Regions from separate parts of the Homo sapiens genome. Here region 1 is linked to region 2. A link means that fine-mapping ties the variant in region 2 to the expression of a gene that starts in the linked region. Tissue or cell type: whole blood. Region 2 holds a variant in brackets; the other region holds the start of a gene. All regions are shown on one strand. Distances are between the middles of the regions.

What was found.
Region 1: it holds the start of SASH1, and the variant in region 2 is fine-mapped to the expression of SASH1 in whole blood (TOPMed, PIP above 0.99).

The regions. Positions count from the first base shown.
Region 1 is chr6:148,340,404-148,344,793 of GRCh38, forward strand. SASH1 (SAM and SH3 domain containing 1) reads left to right here and starts at 2,435. Exons shown (of 20, transcript NM_015278.5): 1 at 2,435-2,820. The coding sequence starts at 2,665. RefSeq lists an enhancer at 1,082-1,661.
Region 2 is chr6:148,362,112-148,366,501 of GRCh38, forward strand. All of the region lies in intron 1 of SASH1 (SAM and SH3 domain containing 1), which reads left to right. Among named protein-coding and RNA genes, the nearest start is that of SASH1, 21 kb to the left of the region's middle. RefSeq lists a silencer at 2,548-2,748. The variant A/G (reference allele first, on the strand shown) is at 2,115.

The DNA of each region.
Region 1 (4,390 bases), 22 kb before region 2:
ACCTGGGAGGCAGAGGTTGCAGTGAACCAAGATGGTGCCACTGCACTCCAGCCTGGGCGACAGGGTGACAGAGCAAGACTCTGTCTCAAAAAAAAAAAAAAAAGTATCACGTGGTGAATAAATTCAAATTCTTAAATATACCAATACAGTCAACTGTAAAGGCTATTTATCTTTTCCTATCATTTACTTATATTTATCTATTTATAGAAATGACAATTAAAAAAACCTCATCAGCCTTAACTGAATTTATTTTTATTCAAAGTATCACAGAGCACGAGGGAGCCTTGAAAACCCATCTGGCCTAACTCCGGCATCAGCCTAGGAAAGCACAAGACCTGGCTGTACTGACTCATAGTTCAGTGCTCTTTCTACTTCAACACAATGCCTCAATGCTATTAAGGAGAAATTTAATAATTCTTTTGGTTTCCTTTCACAAACATTATCGTCAGAGACTGTGCGCAGTGGCTCATGCCTATAATCCCAGCACTTGAGGAGACCAAGGAGGGAGGATCCCTTGAGTCCAGGAGTTTGAGACCACCTTGGGCAACAGCAAGAGATCATGTCTCTATAAAAAATTTAAAAAATTAGTCTGGTGCAGCGGTGTGCCTGTAGTCCCTGCTACTCAGGTGGTTGAGGCAGGAGGATTGCTTGAGCCCAGGAGTTCAAGGCCGCAGTGAGCTACGATTGCAGCACTGCACTGCCGGGGTGAGAGAGCAGGACCTTGTCTCTAAAAAAATTTTTCAGCATACTTTTTTTTTCTTTGGAGACAGAGAGTCTTCCTCTGTCACCCAGGCTGGAGTGCAGCAGCAGGACCTCACTGTAACCTTCGCCTCCTGGGTTCAAGCTATTCTCCTGCCTCAGCCTCCTGAGTAGCTGGGATTACAGGCATGTTCCAACACTCTTGCTATGTTTTGTTTTTTTTTTTTGTTTTTTTTTTTTTTGTATTTTTAGTAGAGACAGGGTTTTGCTGTGTTGACCAGGCTGTTCTCAAAATCCTGGCCTCAAGTGATTCGCCCGCCTCAGCCTCCCAAAGTGCTGGGATTACAGGCGCCAGCCCCGCACCCGCCAAAAACACACAAAAATTATCAGGGATTGTGTTTATAAATTTAGTTACTTTTGAAAATGTTTTTACATTTTGAACTTTCCTGTAAGGACTATTCACCCATTGCATTGATTGGTGCTCACAGCACTTAATACTTGAACAAGGGGAATTCAAGGACATGCTCTTATCCCCTTTCAAGTGGACTCAGAAGGAAAACAAAACAAAACAAAACAAAACAAACAAACAAACAAAAAAAACCCCACAATCAACAAGAAACAGGAGAGGCCTCAAAACAAGCAGGGCTCTCTCCCTGGGGCATCTCACTTTTTTTTTTCCTTTTAAACCACAAGGCCCTAACAGAGGAGCAAACTCCATGTGGTTTCTTAACTGTTTCAAAAGTGATCAATCACCAAATCGAATGTGACGTGCATTGTCACCTTCCAAGGAAAACTCTGAGTAGTCTTGAAAGATAGAATCACAAAAGGGAAAAATCACCTCTCCAGGGCTAGTTCCCTTATAAAATAAATCTGTCCTGGGGCTTCCCCTTGGAAAAACACACACAGGGCCCCAAGTGTGTGTAGGCTGACTGGCTACACAATCATTTGAATTTAGTTTCGAAAATAGCCCTTCCCTGTGTCCCTAATGTAAAGGAATAATTAAAACCCAAAGCGCATTTCCCTTAATTAGCCGAAAGCCCTAGCAATGCATGGCATTGTGGGCATTCAGGAGCCAAAATGCCCCCACTCATAAAAAATGATCCAAACAATGGCTCGTGCCCAAGCTTTCACACTTGTTTTGCAGAGAAGTCTTGGCTGGCAGAGGCAGGATTTGTAATTCCTTGGGTCGCTTGACTTCACGAGGGGCGAGGTATGCATTGTAGCGACACGGACTACTTGTGAAGCCTTTGGGCGGGAGTCGCTTAAAGATTAACTTTCTCGGGTTTCCGTTACCAAAAGCGTTTCCGTGAATAGCGTGATTGGAAACTTGTGCGGGCCGGAGACCGCGGCGCGGCTGCTCTTTCAACAGGCGATTTGTTCTCCTGTCCGAGGCTCATTTCCATGCAAAGAGCCTGACATCAGAGCACCTTTTGTTGCTAAACGCTTTCTTTAGCCTCGAGGGAGAGAGTCATGTGGAGCTGGAAGAGCTCATTTTGAAGAGAGGGGTCCCGGGGAGCTCCCTCCAAGATCTAGAGGCTCCGCGGCCACCCCTGCCGGGTCCTGCCAAGACTTGCTAGAAGGAACGAGTCGCGTGCCTTAGTTAGTTGGTTCCCGTCACAGGAAGAAACGCCTTTGCAGTGGGTTTAATTGCTTCTGGGCCGAGCGAATTCCCCGCCGTACAACTCAGTGGTGCGGACTTTGCCTCCTGCTACCCTGTTGCTGCGCCGAGCGGGGTGGGAAAGTTTCTGGAGTTGTCAGTCGCGCAGCCCGTGGCCACCTAGACCCGAGGTGCGGGCGCCTGCGAAGGGCCCCCGCGGGGTGGCCGGGGCCGCCGGGGCATGCAGCGCGGGGGCGCGGCTCGGTGACGCCGCGGGCGGGGACCCGGCATCCGGGCAGGCTGCGCGCGGGTGCGGGGCGAGGGCGCCGCGGGGACTGGGACGCACGGCCCGCGCGCGGGACACGGCCATGGAGGACGCGGGAGCAGCTGGCCCGGGGCCGGAGCCTGAGCCCGAGCCCGAGCCGGAGCCCGAGCCCGCGCCGGAGCCGGAACCGGAGCCCAAGCCGGGTGCTGGCACATCCGAGGCGTTCTCCCGACTCTGGACCGACGTGATGGGTATCCTGGTAAGTTACCTGGGGAGGGGGCGGCGCAGGAAGTACAGTTCGCAGCAGCCCCTCTGAAACCGGGGGCTCCCTTCTCGCCCACCCACTGGGCAACCCACTCCGCAGAGGCGTCCTTCTCTGGCTCTAGTTCTTAGGGGGCTAAATACACACAGTATAGGATTTCAAACCCTAATTAAAAAATAACCAGCCACAGGTCCCGTCAAAAGGTGTTTTTTAAACAATCGGGTATGATATTCAACAGTTTAATCTGGGACACCTGCTGACATGTTGGTGTGGAAAAGGCGAGAAAGAGGCCTTCAAAAAGTAGATGTAAATAAATATTTGGTTGGTGCTGGATTAGGGAAAAGGCTGATGTTACTGATGTTTATCTCTTCACCATTTGTTGTGTGACCACAAGAGGGAAAACAAACATTTCCTTACTCAGAACTGCCAAAATGTTTGCCTACTTTTTTTTGCAGTTTTTCAATTTGTGGAGTTACAGGATATTTGTTTTATATGTTTGGGGCTAAAACAATAGGACTTATTTTGCTAAATCTGTGCTGTCATGTATTTTGAAATGTCCAGTGACTAAAAGCGCCCCTGGATTTGGCATAGTCTCTGGGAAGCAGTTCTTCTGTATGGAGGGTGAAGTTTTAACCTGCTCAGGGTTGAATACCTTGGGGAAGTAATAGATTTGCTTTGGTGGAGCTGTAGTTAGGCAGGTAGACTGGAATCAGATGGGCGAGGTTTATTACAGTCAGACATCTTAATCCATACATAAAAGACAACTTTAGTTTAAAGACTTGGAATGGCCAGATGTGCAGATTATCAGAAAAGTCTCTAGATTTGCTTTGAGATCTTATATTTTTTGAGTGGGAGGAGATGGAGTGAAAGTTCTTCTTTGGGAATGATAAACCGTGTACAGTTTTTAGCACAGTGATTAAACTCTTGGGCTTCAAAGTAAGTTATACTAGGTCAAATGCCAGCTCTCCAATTGACTGTTTACATGATCTTGGCCAAGTCATTCAACCTCTCTGATCCTCAGTTTCATCACCTGAAAATTGAAGAAAAGAAGACTTGCTTCTTGGGGTTTCTGAGATTTAGCTGGGTTGATGTGTGTATCAAGTACTCAGCAGACTGTATAGCATATAGTAGAGGCTCAATAAGTGTAGCTGTCTTTCAGGTTTTATTTGTTTCCTGCAAAGTCTCCTGTCTCTTCCTTCTGGACATCCTAAAAGCCCAGTTACTCCATTTTCAGGTGACCATTGGTATTTATGATTCTTACTATACAGAGAACCAGCGAGCGTTGGTTAAAGATTTCTATCTGCTCTTGTCACTCTCCAGTATTGAAAAATGTATATAAATATGCATGCAATGTATATTTACATACTATATATAGCACATGTATATAATATACCTAAATCTAATATATATTTTAGATTTAAAAGGTTTTGTTTTTGCATTTTCTGAAGTATACAGATGAATATGATCCTTCACTGAAGTTCCAGAAAACCTAATGGACATTTTAAAGTTGTGATAAACTTTTTCTTTTCTTTTTTTTTTTTTTTTTTGAGACGAAGTCTTGCTCCGT
Region 2 (4,390 bases):
AGAGACGGGGTTTCTCCGTGTTAGCCAGGATGGTCTCGATATCCTGACCTTGTGATCCGCCCACCTTGGCCTCCCAAAGTGCTGGGATTACAGGCGTGAGCCACCGTGCCTGGCCTCTTTTTTTTTTTTGAGATGGAGTCTTGCTTTGTCGCTCAGGCTGGAGTGCAGTGGCGCCATCTTGGCTCACTACAACCTCTGCCTCTCTGGTTTAAGAGATTCTCCTGCCTCAGCCTCCCGAGTAGCTGGGATTACAGGCATGTGCCACCATGCCTGGCCAAATGTCCAGCATTTCTTACTAGGTTCTATGAGATAAGCAGTGATGTGGACTGAGCAATGAGGAAGAGATTGCAATGTGCCCCATCTTCCCTCCCACACAAGGCCTCAGTCTAATGCCCCTGGTTTTCTCCCCTTTCCTGCTTGCCATTTTTACTATTATATGCCTTTTTTTTTTTTGAAAGTGAGGTGAGGGTGAGGGTGTGGTCGTATGAGGAAACGGAGGCTTAGGAATGCTTTCCATCTTTGTTTTAAAATAGTGGAATTGAGCCTGGGTAACATAGTGAGACCCCTTCTCTACAAAAAATAAAAAATTAGTCAGGTGTGGTGGCGTGTGACTGTAGTCCCAGCTACTTGGAAGGATGAAGCAGGAGGATCACCTTAGCCCAGGAGGTTGAGGCTGCAGTGAGCCATGATTGTGCCACTGCACTCCAGCCCGGGAAACAGAGCAAGACCTTGCCTCAAAAATACATACATACATACAAGTAGTGGAATTGAGTTAAAGTTTCCTAAAGAAGATAATACCTCTTTGTTTTCCTCTTTGAATCTCAACTGCTACCTATCCCAACTGCCACCCAGGACAGAGCTGGGAGAGAGGGTGTGGAGAGAAAGTTGTAGTGCAGCATAGAAGTCTTATTGGTGCAGGGATTCCTGAAGTGGCTTCTTAGGTCTGGGCAGATATGCTGATGTGGGGCAGGGACCCTGGCCAAGGGTTTTGGGCATGGGCTGCATGGCTGCAAAGGAACCTTGGTGGTGATATCCATAAACACAGGGCTGCCCTGCCTCACCCCTTGGCCTCACCCTTTGAATTCCCTGTCCTCAATCCTTTGAATGCAACATCAGATGAATCACGGTGTTCTGGAGGACGTGGCGGTGGATAGTGTTAGGGACGGAGTGATTGAGGCTCTTCTTTATTTTTTTTATTTATTTATTTTTTTGTAGAGACAGGGTTTCACCATGTTGCCCAGACTGGCCTCAAACTCCTGGGCTCCAATGATGCGCCTGCCTGGGCCTCCCAACACTTCTTTTTTTTTTGAGATGGAGTCTTGGTCTGTTGCCAAGGCTGGAGTGCAGTGGCACGATCTTCGCTCACTGCAACCTGCACCTCCCAGATTCAAGCAATTCTCTGCCTCAGCCTCCTGAGTAGCTGGGATTACAGGCGCCCGCCACCACACCCGGCTAATTTTCTGTATTTTTAGTAGGGACGGGGTTTCACCATCTTGGCCATGCTGGTCTTGAACTCCTGACCTCGTGATCCACCCGTCTCGGCCTCCCAAAGTGCTGGGATTACAGGCATAAGCCACCACGCCCGGCCGATTGAGGCTCTTCTTAACCTCTGCTTCAGACCCCTCCTGGTACCACCTCACTCCCTGGTCTTTGAGGCTGTGTAAGATGTGCAGGCATCTTACAAGATTTGGAGAGTCAGAAATCACTCCTTGCTGGATTGCTGAGGGTTAGCAATGAAAGTAAAAGAGGATATGGAGAAAATGGAAACCACTTATAGGATATTTTATTCCCTGTGGATTCTATAATGGACATTTTAATTAAACTCTAATGGGACATACATTCTAAAAAGTTCTGATCCCTGAATAAATTAATATTAATGCCCACCATTCATTCAGAGTAAATGCATTGAGAGAAATGTCCTCACCAAGTAATATAAAAATGGAGAGTTAGAAAAATAAAATTTCCCAGCTCATCGGCAGCCCATCCTGTTGGTAAAGGACTGCTCCCTCTGGTCCATTACTGCCCATTACTTCCTCCAGCTCCACGTCAATGACTCATGCCAAAACCTCCATCACTTCCCTTTGGAGATTATTACACAGCCCAGCAGACATCCT[A/G]TTAAGAAACTTCTTATTAGCAGAGGAAAAGGAAAGTTTTCACGTTGAGATCGAGAAGGAAGATGATTCATGGTCACGAAGGGAAAGGTCCCCTGAAGTCTTGAGAGATGGCTCACCACTGCTCCACTTTCCTTTGGGGACACACACACTCACCATTAGCTGTGGGAAGTCGATGGGGTGTGTGGAGAGGACCATACTCAATTAAAAGAATGACAGTGGAATCAGTAATTTTGAATCAAGCTCAGCGATGGATTACAAAAGCAAGAGTGTAGACTCCTAACTAATGTAGGGTGGAAGTTGAAACGTGAAAGTTGCCTGTCCTGAGCACGTTTAGAGTTCACAATTCAATATTCAAGAAGAACGTAAGGCTAGCAGTTGCTATAGTTGGGACAGGAAATGACTCAAGTCCAAAAGGAAGGTTTCTGTAGATACAAGGTCAAGATGAGAATAGGTTCTGCCACGGGAAATGGGAAGAACACAAGGATAGAGTCTGCATCATCCCCAAGGGTTCTGACCATAGGAAACATTGCAAAATAGTACAAATGAAGCATGGAGTCAAAGATACCAATATTAAAAAATTAAGAACATTCCATGATTAACAAAAATTTTCCCTCCGGCCGGGCACAGTGCTTCATGCCTGTAATCTCAGCACTTTGGGAGGCTTAGGAAGACAGATCACCTGAGGTCAGGAGTGGGAGACCAGCCTGGCCAACATAGTGAAACCCCATCTCTACCAAAAATACAAAAATTAGCCAGGCATGGTGGTATGTGCCTGTAATCCCAGCTACTTGAGAGGCTGAGGCAGGAGAATCACTTGAACCTGAGAGGCGGAGGTTGCAGTGAGCTGAGATCGTGCCACTGCACTCCAGCCTGGGCACCAAAGTGAGACTCTGTCACAAAAAAAAAAAAGAAAGGAGAGGAAAAAGAAAATTTTCCCTTCAAGTATTTCACTGTGTCAGGTACTTTGTGATCAAGCTAGCTCCCAGCTGTCATGCCTCATTATCATATGATTTACAACCCATGATTGCTTTTTTAAATCGTATGGTCTGTTGACATTGCAAAATCAGTATTTCTCTTCTTTGCACATTCTTTAGCACCTACTATTTGTATCAGTCATTTGACATTTACAGTATTTAGGAAGCCTGATGGCCATTTTTTGTTTTATTGGATCAAATTCTTTTACTATCTTTTTTTTTTTTTTAACTGAGACATCTTGCAGGGCACAGAGTTCTCTGCAAAGATATTGTTGGTTCTCCTGGTAGAGGTGATGAGGAGGGGGTCATACTGAAGTACATCTCATTCTTGCCCACCTCATGACCATATTTCCCTTTAAGAATTCAAATGATGCATCCTCCATGATCGATCCTTAAGCACCTTTGATGTCTTGCTCTCCCTTGCTGAAATGGCTCACATAATGGGAGCTTTAACTGAAGGAGAGATGGAGCTAGGAATATAAAGATCATTTTTGCCTGGGTGTAGTGGCTCATCCCTATAATCCCAGCCCTTTGGGAGGCTGAGGTGGGTGGATCGTTGAGCTCAGGAGTTCGAGACCAGCTTGCACAACATGATGAAACCCCATGTCTACAAAAAAAAAATACAAAAATTAGCCGGGCAGGGTAGCTCGTGCCTGTAATCCCAGCACTTTGGGAGGCCAAGGCAGGCAGATCACCTGAGGTCAGGAGTTTGAGACCAGCCTGGCCAAAGTGGTGAAACCTCATCTCTACTAAAAACACAAAAATTAGCCAGGCGTGGTGGCGTGCGCCTGTAATCCCAGCTACTCAGGAGGCTGAGACAGGAGAATTGCTTGAACCTGGGAGGTGGAGGTTGCGGTGAGCCGAGGTGGCACCACTGCACTCCAGCCTGGGGGATAGAGTGAAACTCTGTCTCAAAAAAGAAAAGAAAAAAAAAAATTAGCCAGGCATGGTAGCGCTGCCTGTATTTCCAACTACTTGGAGGGCTGAGGTGGGAAGATTGCTTGAGCCTGGGACATTGTGGCTGCAGTGAGCTGTGTTCGCGCCACTGCAGTCCAGCCTGGGCAAAAGAGGGAGAGCCTGTCTCAAAAACACAAACCAAAAAAAACCCATAGAGATCATTTTTGAGAAGAAGTTTAAGAAAGGTAGACACTGTGCTGAGGAACTTAGTTGCTAAGATATAGACACAAGAAAATATTGGATACTTGGAAGGAGACGAGCAGACAACAGAACAAGAAGAACTTCATTTAAAGTCTTGTCCGGACTTGGTGGGGCGATGGTGCATTTCTGGTGTCTGACTTGCAA